2 separate regions of the Homo sapiens genome follow, and region 1 is reported to be linked to region 2. The links are microRNA targets in miRTarBase. Many come from high-throughput screens and were not tested one by one. Region 2 holds a microRNA gene; the other region holds the end of a gene's coding sequence.
The links. The annotated mature microRNA hsa-miR-1265 reads CAGGAUGUGGUCAAGUGUUGUU and lies in region 2 at 1,762-1,783, shown strand. An mRNA with a match to its seed (bases 2 to 7 or 8) in the 3' UTR can be bound and repressed. Matches are read on the target gene's strand: a 7mer-m8 pairs with bases 2 to 8, a 7mer-A1 pairs with bases 2 to 7 and ends in A, and an 8mer does both.

Region 1 (5,072 bases), not on the chromosome of region 2:
AAGGACACACACCCCAAATGCCAAAAAGCCTACATAGATAGGAAAAATCAGTTCCAGTCCATCAGAACTTACAACCGTGGAGACACCACCCTTTGCCACTCTCTGGGGTTGGGGGTTGCAAGACTCTCTGGTGAAACAAAGCCCACATAGGGACCAGGTATCCTTGTAGCTCTCACGAGATGAAGAAAACAGAAAATGGAGAACATAACCAAATTCTTGGAGACGGAGTTAGTGCAGAAGCTGAGAACTGGTAAGAGACTGTGTTATTTGGCTTCTGCGACCATCCACCTTGGCCCAACTGTCCATTTCCTCACTTCCTGCTCTGCCTGTTCACCTTCTTGTGATGTCTTAATCCTGGAGGAAACAGGAGGGGTCAGGGAATCCCACTGGAAATGAAATTTCTCGGCTTCATTTCAAAGCTCCTGTGGAAGTCCAAACACACTTCTGAAGCCACAGGGACAAGGGAATGACTTTCATCAGTTCCATTTTCACTGCCTTGATCTGGGAGCATCCAGAAGAGCAGCTAGAGAACTAAAACCACGGAGCAGTTAGCAAGCATCCATTTAAAAAATATGACAAAAATGGAAAGATAAAAATGAATGATGGCATTTCAATATCAACACAATTAATACCCTGTGAACTTTAAGTGTTCTAACCTATGGAAGGCAGGCCAAGCAAATCAGCAGAGGCCTAGAATCTGTGAGACTGAAGACAGCAAGAAATAATGAGAGTGCTGGTAAGAAAAAAATGTCAATAAGAATTTGCAAATGTGTCTCCAAGCTCCAATACTATGCTTTTCAGAATGTTGCTGCTCACAGCTGACAGATGCTTTACAGGATGGTATTTGGAATGGCAAAGGAAAAGGGAAAAAATATCTGTAGGCAAATAATAAACAATTACTTACCGTAAAAATAGTCTCTAAAGACTTAGAACACTCCTAACACTGTCCCTACTTAGTCAATCAGCCATGCTTTTCTAGATCACAGAAATCTACTGTTCATCCAGATGTCTTTTTTGGAAATAAATGATGGGCCTATGATGAGAAGCAATTTGCTTTCCTTAAAATGAAATGCTTTCTTTAAAAGGGCATATTCTGGTCCAGAGCAGGTAAACTATCAATGAGTGATAGCAGTAGCAATAATGAGTACTTCCTCTTTTCTAGTTCTTGAACATGGTTGAAAAGGAACCCACACTAAGGGATTTAGAAGATGGCAGATAAATACTTGTTTTCAATCTATCATGTGTAACCAGAAGCCTGCAAGCAAACAGGTTTTGAACCCCTAGTTCAAAGACACTGAAGAACTAGATGTGCAGGAGACAGCTATACCTTGAGAAGCTTTGAATTTAGTAGGGCAATAAGATATGTACTCAGTGTCAGGCGTAGTGGCTCACACCTGTAATCCCAGCACTTTGGGAGGCCGAGGCGGGAGGATCACTTGAGGCCAGGAGTTCGAGACCAGCCTGGCCAACTTGGCAAAAACCCGTCTCTACTAAAAATACAAAAATTAGCTGGGCGTGGTGGCATGCACCTGTAATCCCAGCTACTAGGGTGGCTGAGGCAGAGAATCGCTTGAACCCGGGAGGCAGAGGTTGCAGTGAGCCAAAATTGCACCACTGCACTCCAGCCTGGGCAACAGAGTGAGACTCTGTCTCAAAAAGAAAAAGTACTCAGACCACTTAAATATAAGGCAGACTATGGTAAGAGTCACAGGGATGATATGGGTAAATGCTATAGGAATGTAGGGGAAGGACCATTTCCAGCTGGATCATCAGGAGATTATAGGAAGCATAGGTTTGCCAGATGCAAAAGGGATCCAAGACCTTCTAGGAACTCAAAGGCAGGAGCAAAGGCACTCAAGTGAGAAACTGGGAACTGTTCAGAGTAACTGCAACAGAGACTTCATATATAGGAGAGGAAGAAAACGAAACGGAAGGGTTGCTTAGGATTACATGTAGAGAGTCTTAAAATGCCGGGTCAAGAGATTGAGACTTTATTAGTAGACACGGGAAGGTATTAAGGGTTTCTAAATACTACTTTCGGGTGTTGGGCAGTGGTAGGATAGAATGGAAGGCAGGAGACCAAGTAGATGACTGTAAAGCCCCCAACTATCCATTAAGTATATTAAGGGGGAAAACAGTAGATTATTTATCATTACAGTTGTACTTTCTGGGGAGGTCTGTGCTTTAAATATCCAACTCGGCCCTCTGAGGAAAAACTCACCCTCCTGTAAAAGGGACATATTTATTATGAAGACACAAAAACCATCACATACAAAGTACAATACTATAACATCCTGAAATACATATACACACATACTGTACATAAATTTATATTATCAATATAAAAATACATCATTAACATTTCTAAGGATGACAAATACTAAACCAATAAATATTGCAATTCTAAAACATCTACTTACATTAAGTGCTGGTGAATAGGATGACGGTAAAAGAAAGAGGACAAAGCGGACCAGAAAACCAACCACCTGGCTTCCAGTTACAGACTTGAGTTGGTTTGGGGGAGGTATCCCAATCAATTTCCCCAAACACTGAAAAGTGCCTGATGTCATCAACTCTCAAAAACAGAGCAAAGGAAGAATTTGACATTATGGCACTATTTTTTGGCCACATGCGCGCGCGCACACACACACACACACTCTTCAACCGCATTTAGTGAGATACAGAAATATCAATCGATAATAAGTTTAAATTAAAATCAAAGCCCCTACAACCTAACCTTCTATGTAGCACCCCAGCAGAATGTTTTACTTCTCATACTCATCTTTCCTATCTTGTGTTAAGTCTTTTTTCCTTTCAATAAGTAAAACTACATTGATGGTCAAATGAGAGAAAAATCCAGCATTAATTCTAGCATGAGAACAAGGCACAAATGTCAGAAAAGGTTTAATGGATCAGCTGTTAAACTGAAGAGTGCCATGCCCTAGCAAACACTCACGACTCAAAACCATAACTTTTCTTGTGTCCAAACACCATCAGACTATTGCCACAGGGATATTCTTTTTTTTTTTTTTTTTTTTTTTTTTTTTCTGAGACAGAGTCTCACTCTGTTGCCCAGGCTGGAGTGCAGTGGCATAATTTCGGCTCACTGCAACCTCCACCTCCCGAATTCAAGCGATTCTCGTGCCTCAGGCCCCCAAGTAGCTGGGACTATAGGCATGCACCATCATGCCCAGCTAATTTTTGTATTTTAGTAGAGACAGGGTTTCACCATATTGGCCAGGATGGTCTCGATCTTTTGACCTATGATCCACCTGCCTCGGCCTCCCAAAGTGCTGGGATTACAGGCGTGAGCCACCATGCCCGGCCCCAGGATATTCTTTTGTGCAAAGTTTAGGAAACTCCATGCACTTCTCAAAACATCAGATGCTGGGGACTGGCTTATACAAGAAATATGGAGAACACATATAATAGATTTTAGCCATGGGCTAGATTTTCAGATTTTAACAGAGACAGATAAGTGGTGAAGAACTCCATGAAAGTTGTATTTAAGTCAGAAGATTCTTTTTCGTGTGTGTGCGTTTCTATTATATAGATGAACTATTTCATATGTGCTGTCAGAGGGGACAATCCCACCATCCCATAGCATGTTACTTTAAGGTCAATTAGGGCTTCTAGCTTTCAACCAAATGGGAACTCCTATAAACCATCCCGTTTCTCTTGTCTTTCAGGCTATACTGACTTTCTTGCTTGAAGCTGTAACAGATTAATTAGAACTCAAAAGTCCTTTCTGTCACCTTCACATTGGTCTTTAGACAACCTTGGATGGGCCTTTCACTATACAAGCTAATTCCAGGAGGGACTCAGGGATCCCTCTGCCCGAAGTCAGAACTAGAAGGTGGGGCTGGGAAGTAAGGAATGAAAAGCAAATGGGACTATCATAAGAGGTATAGAAGTTTTAAAAAACAGATATACATTTCGAGAAGATTCTGGTTTCTTCAGCTGGGGATTCTGGGAACTTAGTATATACTGGAGAGTTCACAGGTCAGGCTGCATGGTCTGGTCCAGAATCTACTTGGTCTCTGGTCTCCTCACATCGTAAACACTTTCTAAGAGATCAAGAACAATTCAAAAGAACCCATCCAATCAACATGTCACAACTGACTGCCATGACTGAGTCAAATCAACCGTAAGATCCTGGGGCTCCTGAATCACTTCCAGAAATGAGAAAGCAGGACTTCGACCTTTAAGAATGATATGCCCTCAGCTGTTACCAATATCCGAGGCTAAGAAGGTTCAAGTCTGAAAGTTGATTGAGTAACTGCAATGATCCTTGGGTAGAGCAGATTCTTCTCTTGCTGCTGAATGTCCTCAGACGTGTAGAGTGCCAGGAGCAGGGGAGAGGGCAGTCCTGGAGGTACACCCTCTGGCCTCTCCCAAGCAAGCAGTGAGGTGTGCATTGTTAGAGGTGCACCGGGAAGGGAGCTTGGTTTCGGACCCCAGGACATCCTGTCCGCAAGCAGCTGCTACTTCTTGGGCTTCTCTAGAATATTGAGGAATTTCCCCCGTGTCATCTCTCTGGCTGGAATCACAAAGCAAACAAATGATCAATGAAAACCTAAAATCGGAAAAAAGAATCATAGGAAGATTTAATTTAAAAATGCAGATTGATTTAAATTATATATCAAGTTGCTATCACAACAGATTCAATCATCACCAACTAACCTAAAAGGGGGTAAAAACAAACCACTATAGACAACTAAAACTGTACAAAGCTATTCTGAAGTTGGCAATTGAGATACATGCCAAATGACTGGGAAAGATTTTATCATCCACCTTTAAACAAATCACCAGGGGATTCCCCCAAAACCTATCTCTGTCTCTAGAATCTAACCTAATACTCATGTTCACTATCTCAGGGGGTTTGCTCTTGAAGCCTAAAATCCAACCAAGATTAGTCTTCTCTGGGTTGCTGGTCTCTGGACATTTATAATCTCAAATCAAAATTAGAGATCATTTACCCTATCTCTCAGCAGTGTTAGTCCCTGGATACTGTAATATAACAGGGTTTATATTCCCTCAGTGCAGTTCATCTGTGGATGGTGTCATAAAGT
Region 2 (5,074 bases):
ACCCCCACAACCACATAAATGGCATGATAATGTGTATGTGTTGCCTCAGACACCACAGTGACTATCTTTGTATGAAGTATAAAGCAGACCAATTCAGACAAAAATGAAAATGTACCAGAAAAAAATAATTTGGACCCTGTTGAAAATGAAATCTATTTCAAAAGCTTCAATCCTCTCTTTACTGCGATTGTCTATAAGTGACTATGAATTTAAGAAGTTGTGTTTCATTGTTAATTGCAATATTTTTCAAAGCTATTATACTCTAGGTCTGGAGACCACAGTTGATCTAGGTTTGGTGGTCTGCTACAGAGGGAGATTTCTTTTTTGAAGGGTTTTTTTTTTTTTTTGGCGGGGAGCAGGGTGGGATGAGGGCAAAAGGGGGTTAAAATAGGTGGCAAATGATAGCTTTCATCCTTAGTGAAAAGCCATGGCTTCTAGAAATGTCTACCATCTGATAGTCATTCGACAAATGTCTATTGAGCACCCATATATGCCAGGTACTGTTCTGGACCCTTGGGATACATCAACAATCAAAACAGAGAAGCAGCCTGTCCTCCTGCAGCTTCCTTTCTGGAGAAAATTCTAAAATATGACTAGGTGGTCTTCGATTAATTGGCTATTTTTCTTTAGCAGAAAATTTTGTGACAGCATTGAGGGTTAGGAAAGAGTTTTCAGGCCAGGTGCGGAGGCTCACACCTATAATCCCAGCACTTCGGGAGACGGAGGCGGGGAGATTACCTGAGGTCAGGAGTTCGAGACGAGCCTGGTCAACATGGCGAAACCCTATTTCTACTAAAAATACAAAAAAATTAGCCAGGCGTGATGGCGCATGCCTGTGATCCCAACTACTTGGGAGGCTGAGGCAGGAGAATCGCTTGAACCCAGGAAGTGGAGGTTGCAGTGAGCAGAGATTGTGCCACTGCACTCCAGCCTGGGCAACAGCGAGATTCTGTCTCAAAAAAAAAAAAAAAAAGAAATTTAAAAAAAGAAGAAAAAAGAAAAGAATTTTGAAAAATTTTCTGGTGCTCCCTTAGAAACCATCACTAAAAATTTCATCTTTGCTTCTGCTTATGGTATTGAAAGCTTTTTGTTCATATCAGAAATATATATGCAGAGTTTTCTGTGGTAAGGAATTGTGCTAAGAAGCAGGAGGGGATATAAACATATGTGAGACGTATCTGTCAACTTATCCTTTGATGGGTTCCACCCATACCACGGTTTCAAAGGAAAATACTATCATCTCTGTGTTGCAATGGCCGGGCAACATCATTCTGCCCATGGTACCTCCAGTAAATACAGAACAGAGCTGGAACTCTGCCTTTCACTCAATTAAAGCCCCTTGTGGTTCAGATGTTTACACAATGGAAACTAACAAAGAAACCAAAGGCCAAACAGAGTGGTTGGGGCAGAAGGGTCTTTTAATCCTGGGTCTGAGGACCAATGTCCTAAAGGGATAAAAGCCCACCCAATGTCACCAGAGGCAGAAATAGGATGCATGCTGCCTGTCACCCGATGATCAGAGACCATATATTATTCTCTCTGTTCAGATCCATCATTGAGGTTTTTATGAGAGAAGGCTGTCTTGAAGGAATGCTTTATCTCGGTTTGCACATACTGCAAGTCAACCAGAGTTAGAGGGAGCTGCCATGTTTGTGCTGGAAGTGATAGAGCTGGGCTGCAGGGGGGTGGAGGATGGGGGAGGTAGGAGAGCAGACGTCTATTGATTTGGTGTTTTAGCTAATCGACCTATGGTTTGGGACTCAGGATGTGGTCAAGTGTTGTTAAGGCATGTTCAGGAACAATACTTGACCACATTTTGAATTCCAAACCATATTCTACAACTTTTTCCACATATTTGGTGTAATCCTCCATTTTCTATTTTTGAGTTCGACAAAAAGGGGTCAAGAAAATATAAATGCATTTCGAGAGTTTTTTAGACCTCCAAAGGTCTTGAAGAATAATATTTTGAGGAGTTAGGTATAAATAATTCAGAAACATATGGATAGAATTTACTTCTACATATCAGAATGTAACACAAAGTAAGGAGAAATATTTGACTGTACTCTGCTTGGTAGGGTCCCAGTGTTTGAAAGAAGTGCAGCCGCATGAACCATTCTGGGCTGCTTCCTGTCCCGCTTTTGTACGCATCTCTCTCTCTCTTGCTTTCAAGCTGCATGAACATGTACTTAGACCTCAGGTATATTTTAAGGAATAACAGCTGGTAGTTTGAGGGACCCATACATCCCTCACGTACGGCCATAGATGCTATGTTCAGCAAATATGAACAAACACAGCAAAAATCTATGCTGTGCTCTCCGCCACATCGATGCTGGCTTTTCTAGCATTCCATCCAATTCCAGCTTTCTGCTTGTCTCAGAAATGGATGGGGGTCAGGGGTGTGACAGGAATAGCTTCATAACTTGAGGAACCCAGTACAAAATGAAAATGTGGGCCCCTTGTTCAATAAGTATTAAGAATGTTAGGATGGCAACAGCAGAACGTTCGAAGAAGGCTGGGGAGTTTGGCCTAGGAAGCTGGCCCTGCGTGGTGATGCCCTAAGGCATTTTTTCCCCTCTAACATTTCTTCTTTTTCTTTCTTTCTTTTCTTTCCTTCCTTCTTTCTTTCTTTCTTTCTCTTTCTTTCTTGAGATGGAGTCTCACTGTGTTGCCCAGGCTGCAGTGCAGTGGTGTGATCTCAACTCACTGCAACCTCTGCCTCCCTGGTTCAAGTGATTCTCCTGCCTCAGTGGCTGGGATTACGGGCGTCTGCCACCACCGCCTGGCTAATGTTTGTATTTTTAGTAGAAACAGGGTTTCGCCACGTTGCTTAGGCTGGTCTTGAACTCCTGACCTCAAGTGACCTTCCCACCTTGGCCTCCCAGACTACTGGGATTACAGGCATGAGGCAGCGTACCTGGCCGCCCTTCAACATTTATTTTGGCAAATAAAAACAAGATGATGGCAGAATAATAAATGTGAACACCGATTTAAAAGGTAGTATGGCCTGAGAATGTAATGGAAGGATTTGGATTTCCCAAGCACTGCTAACTAAAATCAAGAGACAGGACCAGATATCAGCAAACATTTCAAAAGGAATCACCGTATGGTGAAAAGAAATGAAGCTGTAGACGGAACCAGTTGAGTTCTAATTAGCAAAGAGGTAAGCAATTCAGAAGAGTGGTGAGGCTACAGTTCTTGAGGCTATTGTGCTATTTGTTTTTTTTAATAGAGACTCTAAGGAAAGCCATTAATGCAAAGAAAGGAATTCTATTTAAACCTGATGGTGCTGTGTTGCATTAGGTTGGTACAAAAGTAATTGCAGTTTTTGCCATTAAAAGTAATAATAATTTGGCCTGTAATCCCAGCACTTTGGGAGGCCAAGGTGGGCAGATCACCTAAGGTCAGGAGTTTCAGACCAGCCTCATGCTTGGCAATGAGCCAAGATCGTGACACTGCACTCCAGCCTGGGTGACAGGGTGAGACTCCATCTCAAAAAAAAAAAAGTAATCATAATAACACCAAGAAAGTTTTAAAATAAACATTGAATCACTTTTGGGATGTTTAATATGTGGGCAAGTCTCTGCTTTTGCAATTTTTTATTTTTTATTATTTTGAGACAGAGTCTTATTCTGTCGCCCAGGCTGGAGCACAGTGGCACTATCTCAGCTCACTGCAACCTCTGCCTCCTGGGTTCAAGTGATTCTCCTGCCTCAGCCTCCCAAGTAGCTGGGATTACAGGCATGCACCACTATGCCTGGCTAATATATATATTTTTTTTTTTTTTTTTTTTTTAGTGGAGACGGGGTTTCACCATGTTGGCCATGCTGGTCTCGAACACCTGGCCTCAAGTGATCCACGCGCCTCAGCCTCCCAAAGTGCTGAGATTACAGACATGAGCCACCACACCCAGATGCTTCTGCAATTTTTTATTTGACCACATGCTTTACTCAGTGTTGCCTAAATAGAGATCTCTACTTCTTCCCTCACAGTTGCCAGAGATGAATAAACGTGTAAAGCAACAACTCTTGCACTCTGAAGTCACCTTACAACAATGTCTTTTACGATGAGTCTTGAGAATGAGACCACCGAATCTAAATGTAGGCATTGCCCATAACATTTGTTTCTAGAAATGTTGTACATGGCCTGCTCTTATGTATTTATTTTTAAAAGAAATATTTTTTCTGCTGATAAAAATTTAAGCGATGATACAGAAGTGTGCAGAGTACAAAACTGAAATCTCTTGTTTATTTCCATCTCTTTTGTGAGAAGCCTGTTAATATCCTTTGAAATTCTTCTGCAAGCTTTGTCATATTATATTATAAAGAGCACTTTATAAGTTCAGTATTTTTTACAGTTTCTCATTCATCTTTTTTGTTTGTTTGCCTGTGGGGTCGATTAAGACTTGCTTTTAGAAAAAAACAAGGAGACGAAAACAGAGTGTGGGTCACATTCTTTACACAGAGTTCACTCTCATTTTTAAAGAAGAATTGATTCTATTTTTTAGCTGATCAGCATAAAGTGCTTTATTAAGCATAAACTTGTACCATGTACTTTATCTTATTTATTTAAGATGGATGAATCTGTTTTATGCATATATTAAAAAGTTATCAAAAAAGCAACACCCAGTGCTTCATATATTACAGAAAATAAGTGTTAATTCAATAAACAAACTAGAAATTCTTCAGTATGCCAAAGACTTGGCTTTAGATGAACTATCAATTTAATTCCATTCAGCAAACATCTGTTAAGCATCTGCTGGTGCTGCCTTTACTGAATGAGCTGCTTCCTGCAGATCGAAGGATGAGCTGGACTAGGTTCTGACCCAGGGCAAGTCTGCTCCATCTGACTTCTTATAGGTGGTAAAATGCACAAATACTACAGGCTAAACGAAGTACTACAATGAAAGAAGTCTTTCCTGGCAAAGTGGACCACGGGACTTAATAAGTCTTTCATTTCAAATCTATGTCATCTCATAAATAGCAGAGCAATGTGTGACAACACAAAGACTTTATTCCCTTCATAGACTCCACTAGGGGACACTTCCCAGAAGACTGGAAAGTATTTCAAACAACAT

Region 1: miRTarBase lists LIN52 as a target of hsa-miR-1265. Seed matches in the 3' UTR shown: 7mer-A1 at 2,437-2,443.

Annotation. Positions count from the first base shown.
Region 1 is chr14:74,198,390-74,203,461 of GRCh38, reverse strand. It overlaps LIN52 (lin-52 DREAM MuvB core complex component), which reads right to left. Exons shown (of 6, transcript NM_001024674.3): 6 at 1,969-4,540. The coding sequence ends at 4,485. Among named protein-coding and RNA genes, the nearest start is that of VSX2, 39 kb to the left of the region's middle. RefSeq lists a silencer at 1,089-1,289.
Region 2 is chr10:14,434,828-14,439,901 of GRCh38, forward strand. MIR1265 (microRNA 1265) reads left to right here and starts at 1,749; the gene lies at 1,749-1,834.